Linked DNA regions of Homo sapiens. The protein of the gene in region 2 purifies or fractionates together with the protein of the main gene of each other region. This does not show direct contact. Each region holds a gene or a part of one and is shown on either strand. Other genes may lie near its edges. The genes, in order: FOXP1 and SASH1.

Region 1 (3,822 bases), on a different chromosome or scaffold from region 2:
CCCAATAGTATATACACACATTTTAACTAACCAAAAATTCCCTTTTTACTTGGGGTGGGGAGAGAGGGGGGATTATGGGTTAAGCACAAGTATTTAGTTCTAGGGTCCCCGTAAGCTGCTGAATCAAAATAGAACGAATATTTGCATTAAAGACGTCAAAAAAGCATTATTCAAGGCACTGGTGTTCCAAAGAGAAACGAGAGCAATACATGTACAAATCACACAATTTAGTTTCGTTGCAGAAAGCTGTGGCACTGCTATTGGTGAAATGCAAAACTACATGGGATGAGTCAACCATGCAAAGCCAAAGCAACAGCAGAAAAAAAAAACAAAAGCAAGTAAAGGCTCTTACTGTGCGACAAGCTCGTCAAAGTTTTCATCGGGGCAGTATTTGCGAGGACGGCCTCGTTGAATATGGCGGCCACGTTTAAACTCTTCATCATCAACTGTCCAAAAGGACCCAAACTCATCCTCTACTCTGATAAAGCACTTATGCAGTGAGAGGTTGGTGCGAATGGCACCCTGGGATAGGAGCAGCAGCAAAGGAGATGGAGTGGCAACAAAAGGAGACGGGGTTGGGGGCAGAACAGACATCCAATACAGGGAACAGGAAAAAGAAAATAAAATGCAATAAGCATAAGCAAATGGTTTGTGAGGGTTAATATGCATTGCCACCTAAAAGCTACTAGCATGTGATGCAACAAAGACCAGCAAGCAGGGCAGGGGGACTGGTGGGTATACAAAACAGGAGGGATGAAATGCTTTTTTGCTTCCCTTAACTGAGACAACGTGAAACCAGTTCTTTGGTCTAACACCATCTAGCAGCCAAAGCCTCTACGTTATACTTGTTAGCACAATCCAAGCTAGGCTAAGAAGTTCAAACATGGTGGACGTACCCACTGATCTTTTGTGGCCTTCGTTTTTGGAATTCTACTTCATCCACTGTCCATACTGCCCCTTTAACGTTTTCTACTCGCACAAAACACTTGTGAAGACTAAGATTATGACGCACTGCATTCTGCAGCAAGTATAAAAGAGAGAACATTTACATTTTCTATAAGAAAAGACTCCAAAAACAGCAGTAAATTCAGCCTAACAGTCCACATTTGTAAAACCATCCCCAAGAGCTGTAGCTACCACCCCCGTGGAGGACCTTCTCATGGTTAAGGATGTCTTTTCCAAAAGCAAAAATAAACCAAAATTATAAATTAATCGTACTTTGGCATTTTCGTCTAGTCTCTGGTAATAACTGACCAGCAGAAATATTTTTTAATATGCATACAAGCCCAAAATAGGTTCCAGAGTACAAATCTGAAAATGTTACTGTGACTTCAAAACAACACATGCAAAGTATGAAACTGCCCTTTTTAAGCCCACCTACCTCCCATAAAAAGGGGGTATTTTTTTCAAACCACGAAAGAGGAACACTTGGTTAATACTGCTAAATACAGTTTTGTTCTTGATGGCTTCTGGCTTTTAAAACTTCCAGAGGTCCTATGAAGAATTCTAAAGTGGATTTTACCGTTGAGAGTATCGCCTTGTATAGTCAAAGGATCGGGGGGTGGTGAACGGACCCCCCGCCCCCGCCCCGCCCCGCCCCGGTCAAGAGATCAGTAGCTATCATGTTATGTCTCACCTTCCAGAATATGAGAGTTGGCCCTAACTATCGGCAAGTATTTTAACTGAGTAAATGCCAAAGGAACACGAGTGGAACTCTCAATGGCAAAATGACTATATTCCTACAGTTGATGGTTTCTGCAGACATATCTTGCTTATGGTTAAAAGTCCTTTCTGGCCATTCCTAAGCTGAGACCCTTAACATCGATAATTTATCAAAAAGGAGGATCTCAACTCAAGGGTGAAGAGCTTTTAATATCTCATCTTTCCTTTGGGTTTCAGAAGAATCCCCAACCCTTACTGGGTACAGTAACAAGCAAGGCTTCATTTCTTTAGTCCCGCCTGGTTAAACTTACGGATCCAGACTCAACGCTGGACATGAAGACATTCTAAAGAGATTCAGGTCATTTACTTAAAATTTTCTTCTTATTCAGAGTAAGTAGATGACTCAATAGTAGGTGACTCAATTGGGGCTTGAGAAGTTGATACATACATCACACTGGGTAAAGTCCTCACTCAATTCCAGCAACACTGCTATTGCACAAGCGTTTTGCACACCGCCCCCCCCCCCCCACCCCCCAACACATCCCATTCTGCCACCTGGAGTATTTCCTTCCTGAATTATCCTTAACGGTGGTGAATCTTGATACTCTGAGAGGTGCTTCAGTTTTTGGACAATCACAATTGGTGGCTGTGAGGATTCAAGCTACATAATGATTTTTCTTTTCTGATATGGAATATTTAGAAGATAATGAGACAAGTTTTTTAATGCATGGTGTGATGAATTGCTTGAAAGGAGAATTCACAGGATAAATTCCCAAAAAGTTTTTGAGTAATGTCAGCATAATTGAGGTCGGTTCAAGATACCCAGGTGACTATGAAAGGACACTCCTGATTCAAAAAAGTTGGAAGAAGGATTTGCTTAAAAATAAAAATCTCTAAACCGAAAACATTTGGCATGTCATACACTTGATAGGACAATTTTCTATGCATATAAACTGCAGTCTAGTCTAAATAAGCAGTTTTTTTTTTTCTTTTTTTGAAACTAGGTCTTGCTCTGTTGCCTGACTGCAGTGCAGTGGTTCAATTATGGCTCACTGAAGCCTTGTATTCCTGGGCTCAAGCGAGTCTCCTGCCTTAGCCTCCTGAGTAGTTGGGACTAGAGACATGTGTCACCACACCCAGCTAATTTTAAAAATTTTTTGTAGAGATGGGGTCTTGCTATGTTGCCCAGGCTGATCTTGAACTCCTGGGCTCAAGTGATCCTCCAGCCTCCTGAAGTGCCGGGATCACAGGCAGGAGCCACTGCATTTGGCTGCATTTTAAAAAAATATATTGCCCAAAGGCATACAATAGAAGGTCTACTGTTACTTACTGGAACAAAATTGAGGTGGTATAAATAAACGGACAGAGCCAATTTCCTTTAAAAATCCAGACAGGGCATGACACATGTAAGAGATATAACTTGAAAAGAAGTCAACATTGCTCCTAATCCTAATCACTGCTTGATGCTTTAAAATAAGTATCAAAATGTACAGAAATGAAAGGTCTTAAAGCTACTTTTGACAAAATAATTTCTGTAGATCAGGTTGAGCAATATAACCATGTGAGTAAAGACACAAAGCCAAAACTTCAGTTCTGTTTTCCAAAACTGCACATCTAAGCAGAAAGCGACGAGAAGTCAAGAGTTTTCAAAAAAAAGATGTGTAAGCTCTTTTCAGTCATAACCTTAACTGGGCATTTCATCTTTTGTCTAAGATCATGGTACAAACAAGGACACGTACAGAAAATTATACGTATTTATGAGTCACTATTTCATCTAAGGCTGTTTATATTAATGACACTTTTTCCTGCAGTTTGCAAAACGAAAAAGTGCAATCTGAAGATCTAAGCTTAAATATTATATTCACAACTGGTAATTATTTTTAAATTTCATCATTTCTATTTATAAAAGGCAATCTGAAGAAAATGTCTGCCTCATGCTTCGACTTCCTAAATTTTTTAAAGCATTCATGGCTAAAGATCCTTTCATATTTTATCTTCCAAGGCAGGCTGAGGCAAAGAGGGTAAGATTTTGAACATAGGTTCCCTTCAGTGCCCATGTGTCTTAATGGAAATGAAAGGATAATTTGGGCCATAATGGATATTCACAGCTCTGTAAAGTTGATGAATTAATTCTATGGTTATATTCGTTTTCTTTTAAAA
Region 2 (3,822 bases):
AGCCATTGTGGGTACCAAAACTAGGGCTAAGGACAGGAAAGTGGGTGTCCAGGATGCAAACCCTAAGCAAGTGCTCACTCTCGGGTACCAGCCCTGCACTCACATGACTCTGGGCATTCACCTCCTTAGAGTTTGTCCTCTGGGCACCTTGTTTGCCTCACTCTAATTCCAATTCTAAGAAGCATCTTGGGGACCTCAGAATTTGAGCCATGATGCCCTGCTATTCAAGGTTTTCTATCAACTTGGGAAGATAGTAGTTCTCCCCAAACTATATATAATATTCAGATAGCCTCGGTCAAGACAGGATGCAAAACTCACCTAGTATCCCAGTACATCCTCAGTTTCAGTAAACATCAGAATCCTTATGTAGCTCATGTAGGTTCTGAAGAATTTTTTTTTCTCTTAATAACCTTTTCATATCCAAAACTTTTCAGGAAATTAATTCCCCCAACTGTTGGTGATTGGTAAGGATCTCACAGATATCACTGGCAGAATTTTTCATGCCCAAATGAATTCAGGTGTACCTGCTGAAGAACTAGATTGCTAGCGAACCATACTTTGAACTCAAAGTAAGTTCAGGGATCTTTCTAATGTAATGCAGAATGCAAAAATGGAACTTATATATATAGTTTTATATTGGGAGTTAAGGGAAAAGAAAGTCATATTTCTAAATTTATGCTAAAGAGGTTCTAATAATTTTCTATTTCAACCCACTTTTAAAATCTGATGCAATTTTTTTTTTCTGAAGAGGTATTTCTTCATTTATCTGTGATGATTTTTCTTTTCTTTTTATGAGGCGGAGTCTCGCTCTGTCGCCCAGGCTGGAGTGCAGTGGCGCGATCTTGGCTCACTGCAAGGTCCACCTCCCGGGTTCATGCCATTCTCCCGCCTCAGCCTCCCGAGTAGCTGGGACTACAGGCGCCTGCCACCATGCCCGGCTAATTTTTTATATTTTTTATGAGAGACGGGGTTTCACCGTGTTAGCCAGGATGGTCTCGATCTCCTGACCTCGTGATCCACCTGCCTTGGCCTCCTTAAGTTGTGATGATTTTTCTAATAATGAAAAGTAGGACCATGGTCAATATCTTCAGTAGTAGCACTAGGCTGATGATCTTTATGTAACAACAATAATATCCTACAAATGCATAGCATGTTGGTGTTTATCAGTGTGGAACATACAGGTGGACAGGGTCAAAGCACACAACAAACATGTTATCAACCAAAAATGTAACAAGGGACAGTGTGTGTGTGTGTGTGTGTGTGTGTGTGCGCGCGCACATGTAAGTACTGATGAGAACAAAGCATTCAGCACATTGTCTGGCCCATGAATTGTAAGTTCTTGGCAAAGCTTATCCAACAGCAGCAGTTTAGTATCAACTACCAGTCGTCAGATAAGTAGATTATGTCTGGTTGATAGTTCAGTTATCAGTCTGGCAGTTGTAACTAGGACTGTTGCTTTGCTGGGACCTAAAACTTTATCAGTATTTTGTAGATTTTCTTTGGCAAAGTACTCACAAAAGTTTACCTGTCTGTGTCCAGGTTGGTTGATTGCTTCTAGGATAAACTTACTAGAAGGAGGGGCTTCAGGGAAGGTGGGATTTGAGTATTCACAGATCACTCTGTAGGGGATACCATTTATAGAACCTGTTGTGAAATTCAGTCCAGCTCTCCTTTTCCATCATGACCTTGAGAAATTGTACTCACCCAACAAATCTCATCAATATGCGGTATGATGATCAGCCTCTTTCCACGTCGATTGCAGTGGGGCACAGACTTAAGCCAAGATTTATTTTACTGCTTGACACAGCGTATTTCTTTCCCATGTAACCCAATTAATTTCAGTCTTCATGATTCCTTTAATAAGACTAAGAATTCTTTCTAAAAATAAAAATGGAACCATAATAACCCTCTATCACCCGATGTCATAAATGGTGATTTTATGTTTTTAGTGTAATTGAACAATAGGATGTGGGTGTTGGAGATTTCAATTATGTTAGCACAACTTTATGCATCCGTTTGATTGATTTGCTTTTAAAATGTGATTGTAAAATATTCCCTTGTCTCACAGGCAAGACTCGGAAAGCTAGCCTCCTATCTGCCAAGTCATCCACCGAGCCCAGCTTGAAGTCTTTTAGCAGAAACCAGTTGGGCAATTACCCAACATTGCCTTTAATGAAATCAGGGGATGCACTGAAGCAGGGACAGGAGGAGGGCAGGCTGGGTGGTGGCCTTGCCCCAGACACGTCCAAGAGCTGTGACCCACCTGGTGTGACTGGTTTGAATAAAAACCGAAGAAGCCTCCCAGTTTCCATCTGCCGGAGCTGTGAGACCCTGGAGGGCCCCCAGACTGTGGACACTTGGCCCCGATCCCATTCCCTGGATGACCTTCAAGTGGAGCCTGGTGCTGAGCAAGACGTGCCTACCGAGGTGACAGAACCGCCCCCTCAGATTGTACCTGAAGTGCCACAGAAGACGACCGCCTCTTCCACGAAGGCCCAGCCCCTGGAGCAAGACTCTGCTGTCGACAATGCATTGCTACTGACCCAAAGCAAGAGATTTTCTGAACCTCAGAAATTGACAACTAAGAAACTGGAGGGCTCAATCGCAGCCTCTGGTCGCGGCCTGTCACCCCCTCAGTGTTTGCCCAGAAACTATGATGCTCAGCCTCCTGGAGCTAAACACGGTTTAGCAAGGACGCCTCTGGAGGGCCACAGAAAAGGACACGAGTTTGAAGGAACACACCATCCCCTGGGCACCAAAGAAGGGGTAGATGCTGAGCAGAGAATGCAGCCCAAAATTCCATCACAGCCTCCACCTGTTCCTGCCAAAAAGAGCAGAGAACGCCTTGCTAACGGACTCCACCCTGTTCCCATGGGCCCCAGTGGGGCCCTCCCCAGTCCCGATGCGCCATGCCTGCCAGTGAAAAGGGGCAGCCCCGCCAGCCCCACCAGCCCTAGCGACTGTCCCCCAGCACTGGCTCCCAGGCCTCTCTCAGGGCAGGCGCCTGGCAGCCCACCAAGCACAAGGCCGCCCCCCTGGCTCTCAGAGCTCCCCGAGAACACAAGCCTCCAGGAGCACGGTGTGAAGCTGGGCCCGGCTTTGACCAGGAAGGTCTCCTGTGCCCGGGGAGTGGATCTAGAAACGCTCACTGAAAACAAGCTGCACGCTGAAGGCATCGATCTCACGGAGGAGCCGTATTCTGATAAGGTATCAAAGGTCCTGGGCCCACCACGTTCACAGGCCTTTGTTTGTAGAAGTCAGGCAGCCAGGTGAGATGAACCCACATCTGAAGCCAGCCCGGTAGCCCGCCCAGTGGACAGGAGACACCTGAATCCACGTGTCCACACCTTACTTGACATGCATGTGTTCAGATATTGACACCACCCCATTTCATCTCTCCGTAGGTAAACCGAGGTTAAAAATAACCTGCATGAAGACCTCTTAGAGGGATTACTAGGAGCAAATAAAATAAATGTGGACAAAAGAACCCTATTCAGATGTGATAATTGTATTATACAGTTATCTGTATGGGTAATGGGAAAAAGATAATATAAAATCCCCCATTGTACCAAAAACATTTAGCTGTATAATGAAAAATTATTTCTCATTCAAAAAAAATGAGATCTACCAATACCAAGTGACTCCAAAGACAAAGCAATGCTAACAGATACAGCAGTACTTTACTCCTGGAAATACAGGTCCTATTAGGATGCATTCCTGAGAGTCCTTTATTATAAAATTCTCATGACAATGAATGCCTTAGAATCAGATCCTCCTCCACCTCTCTGACCCTCCTTGATATTTCCTGAGTGAATGTCTTTA

Evidence for each region.
Region 1: the proteins of SASH1 (region 2) and FOXP1 fractionate together in Homo sapiens (co-fractionation; one large-scale study listed by BioGRID). This does not show direct contact.

The regions. Positions count from the first base shown.
Region 1 is NC_000003.12:70,971,659-70,975,480, forward strand, and holds part of FOXP1 (forkhead box protein P1), read right to left. Parts: intron 1,019-3,822; coding exon 897-1,018; intron 523-896; coding exon of another isoform or gene 353-522; intron 1-352. UniProt on the Homo sapiens protein: Transcriptional repressor. Can act with CTBP1 to synergistically repress transcription but CTPBP1 is not essential. Plays an important role in the specification and differentiation of lung epithelium.
Region 2 is NC_000006.12:148,541,612-148,545,433, forward strand, and holds part of SASH1 (SAM and SH3 domain-containing protein 1), read left to right. Parts: intron 1-2,068; coding exon 2,069-3,207; intron 3,208-3,822. UniProt on the Homo sapiens protein: Is a positive regulator of NF-kappa-B signaling downstream of TLR4 activation. It acts as a scaffold molecule to assemble a molecular complex that includes TRAF6, MAP3K7, CHUK and IKBKB, thereby facilitating NF-kappa-B signaling activation.